2 linked regions of the Homo sapiens genome follow. The protein of the gene in region 2 interacts with the protein of the main gene of each other region in a biochemical or structural test. Each region holds a gene or a part of one and is shown on either strand. Other genes may lie near its edges.

What was found.
Region 1: the proteins of CNOT10 (region 2) and TNRC6A form a complex in vitro, tested with the Homo sapiens proteins (one study listed by BioGRID).

Annotation. Positions count from the first base shown.
Region 1 is NC_000016.10:24,802,651-24,806,150, reverse strand, and holds part of TNRC6A (trinucleotide repeat-containing gene 6A protein), read right to left. Parts: intron 1,975-3,500; coding exon 1,832-1,974; intron 1,447-1,831; coding exon 1,300-1,446; intron 1,138-1,299; coding exon 1,000-1,137; intron 547-999; coding exon 418-546; intron 1-417.
Region 2 is NC_000003.12:32,688,188-32,691,687, forward strand, and holds part of CNOT10 (CCR4-NOT transcription complex subunit 10), read left to right. Parts: intron 1-3,500. UniProt on the Homo sapiens protein: Component of the CCR4-NOT complex which is one of the major cellular mRNA deadenylases and is linked to various cellular processes including bulk mRNA degradation, miRNA-mediated repression, translational repression during translational initiation and general transcription regulation.

The DNA.
Region 1 (3,500 bases), on a different chromosome or scaffold from region 2:
TTCCAAATGACGACAGCAGATGGACCTACAGAGGCACGACGTGATCTAGCCAATGCCAACATGTCTAGCATTATCTAGTACCATCTCTTCCTTGGACTCTCTGGTTTCTAGTCACTGCTGAAATTCAGTCTTTAGTTCAATCTAAACTTTCACTTCAACAGAGAAACTTTTCCTAATCATCCTACTAACACTAGCACCCTGGACTTGGCTGAGGTTTCCTCTCACAGCATTCTGCACTTCTTCAAGACATTCTTCACAAATGTTCACGATCTGTCTCCCCCGATAGACTGTAAGCTCCATGAGGACTATGACTACGCCTGTTTTGTTTAGTGCACTATGTCCCGCACAGAGTCTAGTGTTTGGCATACAGTAGATGCTCCATAAATGTGTACTAAGAAAGACTATGACTCTGCTTACCTGTAACTGGGAGATCTGAGAAAGCTGGTTTAGCTGGGATAGCTGGTTCAGCATGGCTACCTGTTGAGGGCCAAAGAGTGGATTCAGGCCACCGTTGTTTGGTGCATACTTCAGCAATGAAACTGGAACCTTAGGATCACAATGGTAAGTTAATGATCTTGATAAAATAACTCACACTAACTACACGTACTGTGTGTTTTCAGTTGTCAATAGAGCAGTTAAATTTGTGGACTATTCATTGGGGGTTATAGTCTTTGTCTCTGTCTTACTAACTGACCACTCACTTACACTTTTTCGTGGGTTAAGTAAAAGATGACAGAGGTGCATCTTAAACTAGTCAATTTTACTTTGCTTTTGTCCTACTCTCAAGAATGTTTTAAAGAAGAAAATGGTAAATTTTGGATTTAAATTATCCTTGACTTTTCCTTACTACAACCTTTTTTAATAGTTAATTCAAAACTAGCTGAATCTCAAAGATGCCAATAAATATGATAATGCTTAGTTAGCCATTTTATTCAAATACAAAATCATGCAAGATCCTTTTTGCAGGTAAACAGGAGAATGTAAGGAAAGCTTATTTACCTGAGGGGAGAGTAATGGAGGAGGCACTTGAGCACGGAGATTAGGCTGAGATGAACTAAGAGGTTGTGCTGGAGGCTGCTGCATGCCCCGGGGTTGTGCTGCTGTGTTTCCAACACCAAACATACTGGGATTGCCATTCTATAAAAACAAACAGCAACAAGTAACAGTGGGATTCTTTAGGGACAAACATCTCATTACCACACTGTACTATGATTTAAACACAGTAACTACATGTAAGAGAGATCTTATTACTAATACAAATCATTCAACTGAGAGCCTAAAATACACATCTGGACTTACCTGTCTAACAGAATTCAAGTTTTGCATACCCAGCCCTGCTATGGAGCCAAGGGCCTGGTTAGGTAGTGCACTATTTGAAGGGGGAAGCTTCATGCTTTGACTGGACATAAACTGCATGTTTTGGGATTCATCTGCTACAATGCCATCCTGATTGGACAGACAGAAAGATGTGCAACACCAGCCAAGCAAACAAGTGGAAGGGAGAAATCATTGCAGGAACAGAAGAGAAGTCACATGACATTCCAGCATCAACAGGAAACAGGTAGAAAACAGAAGAGATCGGATTAGTGTTAATTCTAGAGCACACAAAAAGAGCCAAACATATTTCATGGGATTAAGAAGAAAAATATAAATGCAACCTCTATGATAAATTGAGACATAAAAAGACAGTGAACTTCAAAATCCAGTAATAAGATTTGGTAGTGGATTGTAACACTTTATATTATATAAAAGGTTTTAAAATATTAGTGTGAAAATTACGCTATGAAGTATACTGGTTTATCAAGTCAGAGGTAAAAGTAAAAAACCTTACCTTATCAAAATAAGGATTGCGCTCCATGGAAGACTCTTTGGAAATCTGAGGCCGAGAACCAGGGCCTTTCCCGACCGTTCGATTGTAATCACCAATATTTAGGCTATGTTTATCTATCTCCATTCGTTTGTCTTGTAACATTCCTAATAAAGGCAGGAGACTGTTATCAAACAGGAAGACAACCCAATTGGTTTCAGATAAATTTACAACAAAAGCAAAACACTCACTTTCCAAACTGAAATGACTTCAGCCAAGACAAGGGTATGTGAAAAATACACTTCCATTTCATAAATTTTGCATTCCTCACAAATGAAGTCGCAATTAGGAGATACTGTTATTTTACTGAAATAATTAACTTGAAATAGACTAGTAAACAGAAGGTGGCTGGCTGATAACCTCACTTTTTTTTTCTTTTTTATTTTAGACAGTCTCGCTTTGTGGCCCAGGCTGGAGTGCAGTGGTGGGATCTCGGCTCACTGCAACCTCCACCTCCTAGATTCAAGCAATTCTCATGCCTCAGCCTCTCGAGTAGCTGGGATTACAGGAGTGTACCACTACACCTGACTATTTTTTGTATTATTAGTAGAGATGTAGGTTTCTCCATGTTGGCCCGGCTGGTCTTGAACTCCTGACCTCAAGTGATCCGGCCGCTTCGGCCTCCCAATGTGCTAGGATTACAGGTATGAGCCACCAGGCCCGGCCTCGTTTTAAAAGGACTCTTAGGTTACATAACTTAAGGCACCTTTAGCCATCTCTAATCTGCTGAGTTTTATAATACAGGTAAGTTTCCATTAACAAGTAATAAAAACAATCAACACCCACTGTGATAAACCACCATTTAATAAATGCCTGGTTTATGTCAGTCGCCATTATAAGTGCTTTTTCTTTTCTTTTTTTTTTTGAGAAGGGGTCTCACTCTGTAGCCCAGGCTAGAGTGCAGTGGTGTGATCTTGGCTCACTGGAACCTCTGCCTCCCGGGTTCAAGCAATCCTCCTGCCTCAGCCTCCTGAGCAGCTGGGATTACAGGCACCCACCACCACACCCAGCTAATTTTTTTATTTTCAGTAGAGACAGGGTTTCCCCATGTTGGCCAGGCTGGTCTCAAACTCCTGACCTCAGGTGATCTGCCTGCCTTGGCCTCCCAAAGTGCTGGATTTACAGACGTGAGCCACCGCACCTGGCCTATGAATGCTTTATGTGTACTAATTTAATGTTTGTAACTCTACTGTTATCGCCCTTTTAGCAGATGAGGAAACTGGACACCAGACAGGGTAACATCTTCCCCTCTCTTAGGCTTTGCTCTGTCTGCTCCTCTCCTCATTCTGACTGCTCTGCAATAAAAAATGATCTTCTCTCCTGGAAACTTTTTTCCTGCAAAATCTTTGCTGGATATAGCCAGCTCCGGCCCAAAAGCTACTGCTCTATTTCAACAAATCTTTTAAAAGTGGACAATGCTCTCTACCACCCCTCCTCACCATCTGTCCATTCTGGTTTCTCTTCCTCTACCCATGCTGAGCTCACCTCGGGTGCTTCTTCAATGCTGGGATACTCTGCGGCTGACAAAGTAGACTCAGGGTCTCAGTCTTTTGACTCTCTCTGTAAACTTGCTTTCCTTAGACTTCATTCACTATCAGGGTATCAGCAGTCACTCCCATTCAAGTGATGCCCA
Region 2 (3,500 bases):
TACTTTAGGAACTGGGCAGGAACAAAACAAAGTCTCTGTTCTGGAGCTTATTTACTATGAAGGACAGATAAGCATGTAAATAAAATGAAAAATAAGATGATTTCAAGTTGTGATAGATACTCTGAAGAAGGCCAAGTGCAGTGGCTCACACCTGTAATCCCAGCATTTTGGGAGGCTGAGGGGGGTGGATCACCTGAGGTCAGGAGTTCAAAACCAGCCTGACCAACATGGTGAAACCCCATCTACTAAAAATACAAAAATTAGCCAGGCATGCTGGCGCACACCTGTAATCCCAGCTAGCTGGGAGGCTGAGGCAGGAGAATTGCTTGAACCTGGGAGGCAGAGGTTGCAGCAACCCGAGATCGCACCACTGCACTCCAGGCTGGGTGACAGAGTGAGATTCCATCTCAAAAAAAAAAATAATACTCAGAAGAAAAAAATGAGTAAGAGAGGCTGTCTGCAGTTGCTCACACCTGTAATCCTAGCACTTTGGGTGGCTGAAGTGGGAGGATTGCCTGAGGCCAGGAGTTTGAGACCAGCCTGGGCAGCATAAGTGAAACCCTGACTCTAAAAAATAAAAAGCCAGATATCATGGTGTGTGCCTATAGTCTCAGCTCCTAGGGAGGCTGAGGTGGGAGGATTGCTTGTACCTAGGAGTTCAAGGCTGCAGTGAGCTTTGATCACGCCACTGTCCAGGCAACAGGATGAGACCCTCTCTCAAAAAAATAAAATAAAAGGCCGGACGTGGTGGCTCACGCCTGTAATCCCAGCACTTTGGGAGGCCGAGGTGGCAGATCACGAGGTCAAGAGATCGAGACCATCCTGGCTAACACAGTGATACCCCGTCTCTACTAAAAATACAAAAAAATTAGCAGGGCCTGCTGGCGGGTGCCTGTGGCTCCCACCTGTAATCCCAGGACTTTGGGAGGCCGAGGTGAGTGGATCACCTGAGGACAGGAGTTTGAGACCAGGCTGGCCAACATGTTGAAACCCTGTCTTGACTAAAAATACAAAAATTAGCTGGTCGTGGTGGCAGACGCCTGTATTCCCAGCTACTCGGGAGGCTGAAGCAAGAGAATCACTTGAACCCAGGTGGCAGAGGTTGCAGTGAGCCAAGATCGTGCCATTGCCCTCCAGCCTGGGCAACAAGAGCAAAACACCATCTCAAAAAAAAAAAAAAAGAAAAAGAAAAAAAAGAATAGAGGATGACTGAAAGCCTTGTTTTTCAGATAGATTAGAGAAGGGCTTTCTTAGAGTTGACATTTAGACAGAAACCCTAAGGATAAAGAGCCAGCTGTGTTGGGAAGAATGATCCAGGTAAGAGGAGCAACAAATATGCAAATGTACAGAACCCTTGCTTGGAAAATGTCTAAAGAACATCAAGCAGACCCCTTGAATACAAGCTCCCCGAAGATAGAGACTTTTGTCTGTGTTAGTTGTGTTCTAGCTCTAGTCCCTAGAACAATATCTGACAAGAGACACTCAACACATAATTTAAGGCTGGGCATAGATGCTCACACCTGTGGGAGGCTGAGGTGGGAGAATCGCTTGAGGCCAGGAGTTCAAGACCAGCCTAGGCGACATAGCCAGACTTGTCTCCGTAAAAAATAAAAAAAAATTAGCTAGGCATGGTGGCGTGACCCTGAAGTCCTAGCTACTCCAGAGTCTGAGATGAGAGGATGGCTTGAGCCCAGGAGTTGAAGGTTGCAGTGAGCTATAATTGTGCCACTGTACTGTAGCCTGGGTGACAGTGCGACCCTGTCTCAAACAGAAAACAAAAAAGCCAATACACATAATTTATAGCATAGGGAGCAAAGGCAGCATGGCAAGAGATAAAGTCACAGTTGTATCAGGAGTTGGTGTATGTTGGGCGTTACAGGCCATGGAGGGAGTTTGAATTCATTTTAACTAATGGGAAGAGAGTGGAAGTTTTCAATAAGGGCATGATGGTGTGATCTGATTTATATTTAACTGATCCAGGTAAGGAATGATAAGAGTAGGGGCTTTGAAATCAGATAGTTTAGGTTCATCCTAGCTGTACTACTTGGTATTTGTGGGAAATTGGGCAAATTTCAAGAAGTCTTTTTTTTAAGCTTCAGCTTTCCTGCGTGTAGAATGAGAACGATGAAAGTATCTACCTCACAGGTATGGTAACAGGTTAAATGATATAATCTCAGGCTCTGAGTTTTTTGGTTTTTTTGTTTTGTTTTGTTTTGAGACAGGGTCTCACTCTTTCACCCATGTTGGTGTGCAGTGGCACCATCATAGCTCACTGCAGCCATGAACTCCTGGGCTTAAGCAATCCTCTTGCCTTAGCCTCTTGAGTAGTTAGGACTACGGGTGTGTACTACTGTATCCAGATAATTTTTTTTTTTTTGAGACAGAGTCTCGCTCTGTTGCCCAGGCTGGAGTGCAGTGGTGCGATCTTGGCTCACTGCAAGCTCCGCCTCCCGGGTTCACACCATTCTCCTGCCTCAGCCTCCCAAGTGGCTAGGACTACAGGTGCATGCCACCATGCCCGGCTAGTTTTTTTGTATTTTTAGTAGAGAAGGGGTTTCACCATGTTGGCCAGGCTGGTCTCTAACTCCTGACCTCATGATCCGCCCGCCTCGGCCTCCCAAAGTGCTGGGATTACAGGCATGAGCCACCGCGCCCAGACTTATTTGGTATTTTTTCAACTTTTTATTATGAATGATTTCAAACACCTAAAAAATTTAAAAAATAAAATGAATATCTATATATCTACCCCCTAGTTCATTCAGCAATTGTTATATTTTACCATATTTGCTTCCTCTATCACTAGCTATGACTTTTTTTTTTTTTTTTGAGATGGAGTCTCACTCTGTTGCCCAGGCTGGACTGCAGTGGTACGATCTTTGCTCATTGCAACCTCCATCTCCCGAGTTCAAGCGATTCTCTTGCCTCAGCCTCCCGAGTAGCTGGGCTTGCAGGCACACGCTACCACAGCCAGCTTTTTTTTTTTTTTTTTTTTGAGATGGAATCTCACTCTGTTGCCCAGGCTGGAGTGCAGTGGTGCAATCTCGGCTCAGTGCAACCTCTGTCTCCTGGGTTCAAGTGATTCTCCTGCCTCAGCCTCCTGTGTAGCTGGGACTACAGGTGTGTGCCACCATGCCTGGCTAATTTTTTGTATTTTTAGTAGAGACGGGGTTTCACTGTGTTAGCCAGGATGGTCTCGATCTTCTGACCTCATGATCCACCCACCTCGACCTCCCAAAGTGCTGGGATTAACAGACGTGAGCCACTGTGCCTGGCCATGCCCAGCTAACTTTTGTATTTTTAGTAGAGACGTGGTTTGACCATGTTGGCCCGGCTGGTCTTGAACTCCTGAGCTTAAGTGATCTGCCCGCCTCGGCCTCCCAAAGTGCCGATGTGAGCCAACACACCTGGCTCTAGCTATGACTTTTAATGTTGAATCATTTCAAAATAGGTTATAAACATCATAACACTTCATCTCTAAATATTTCAACATGCGTTTCTTA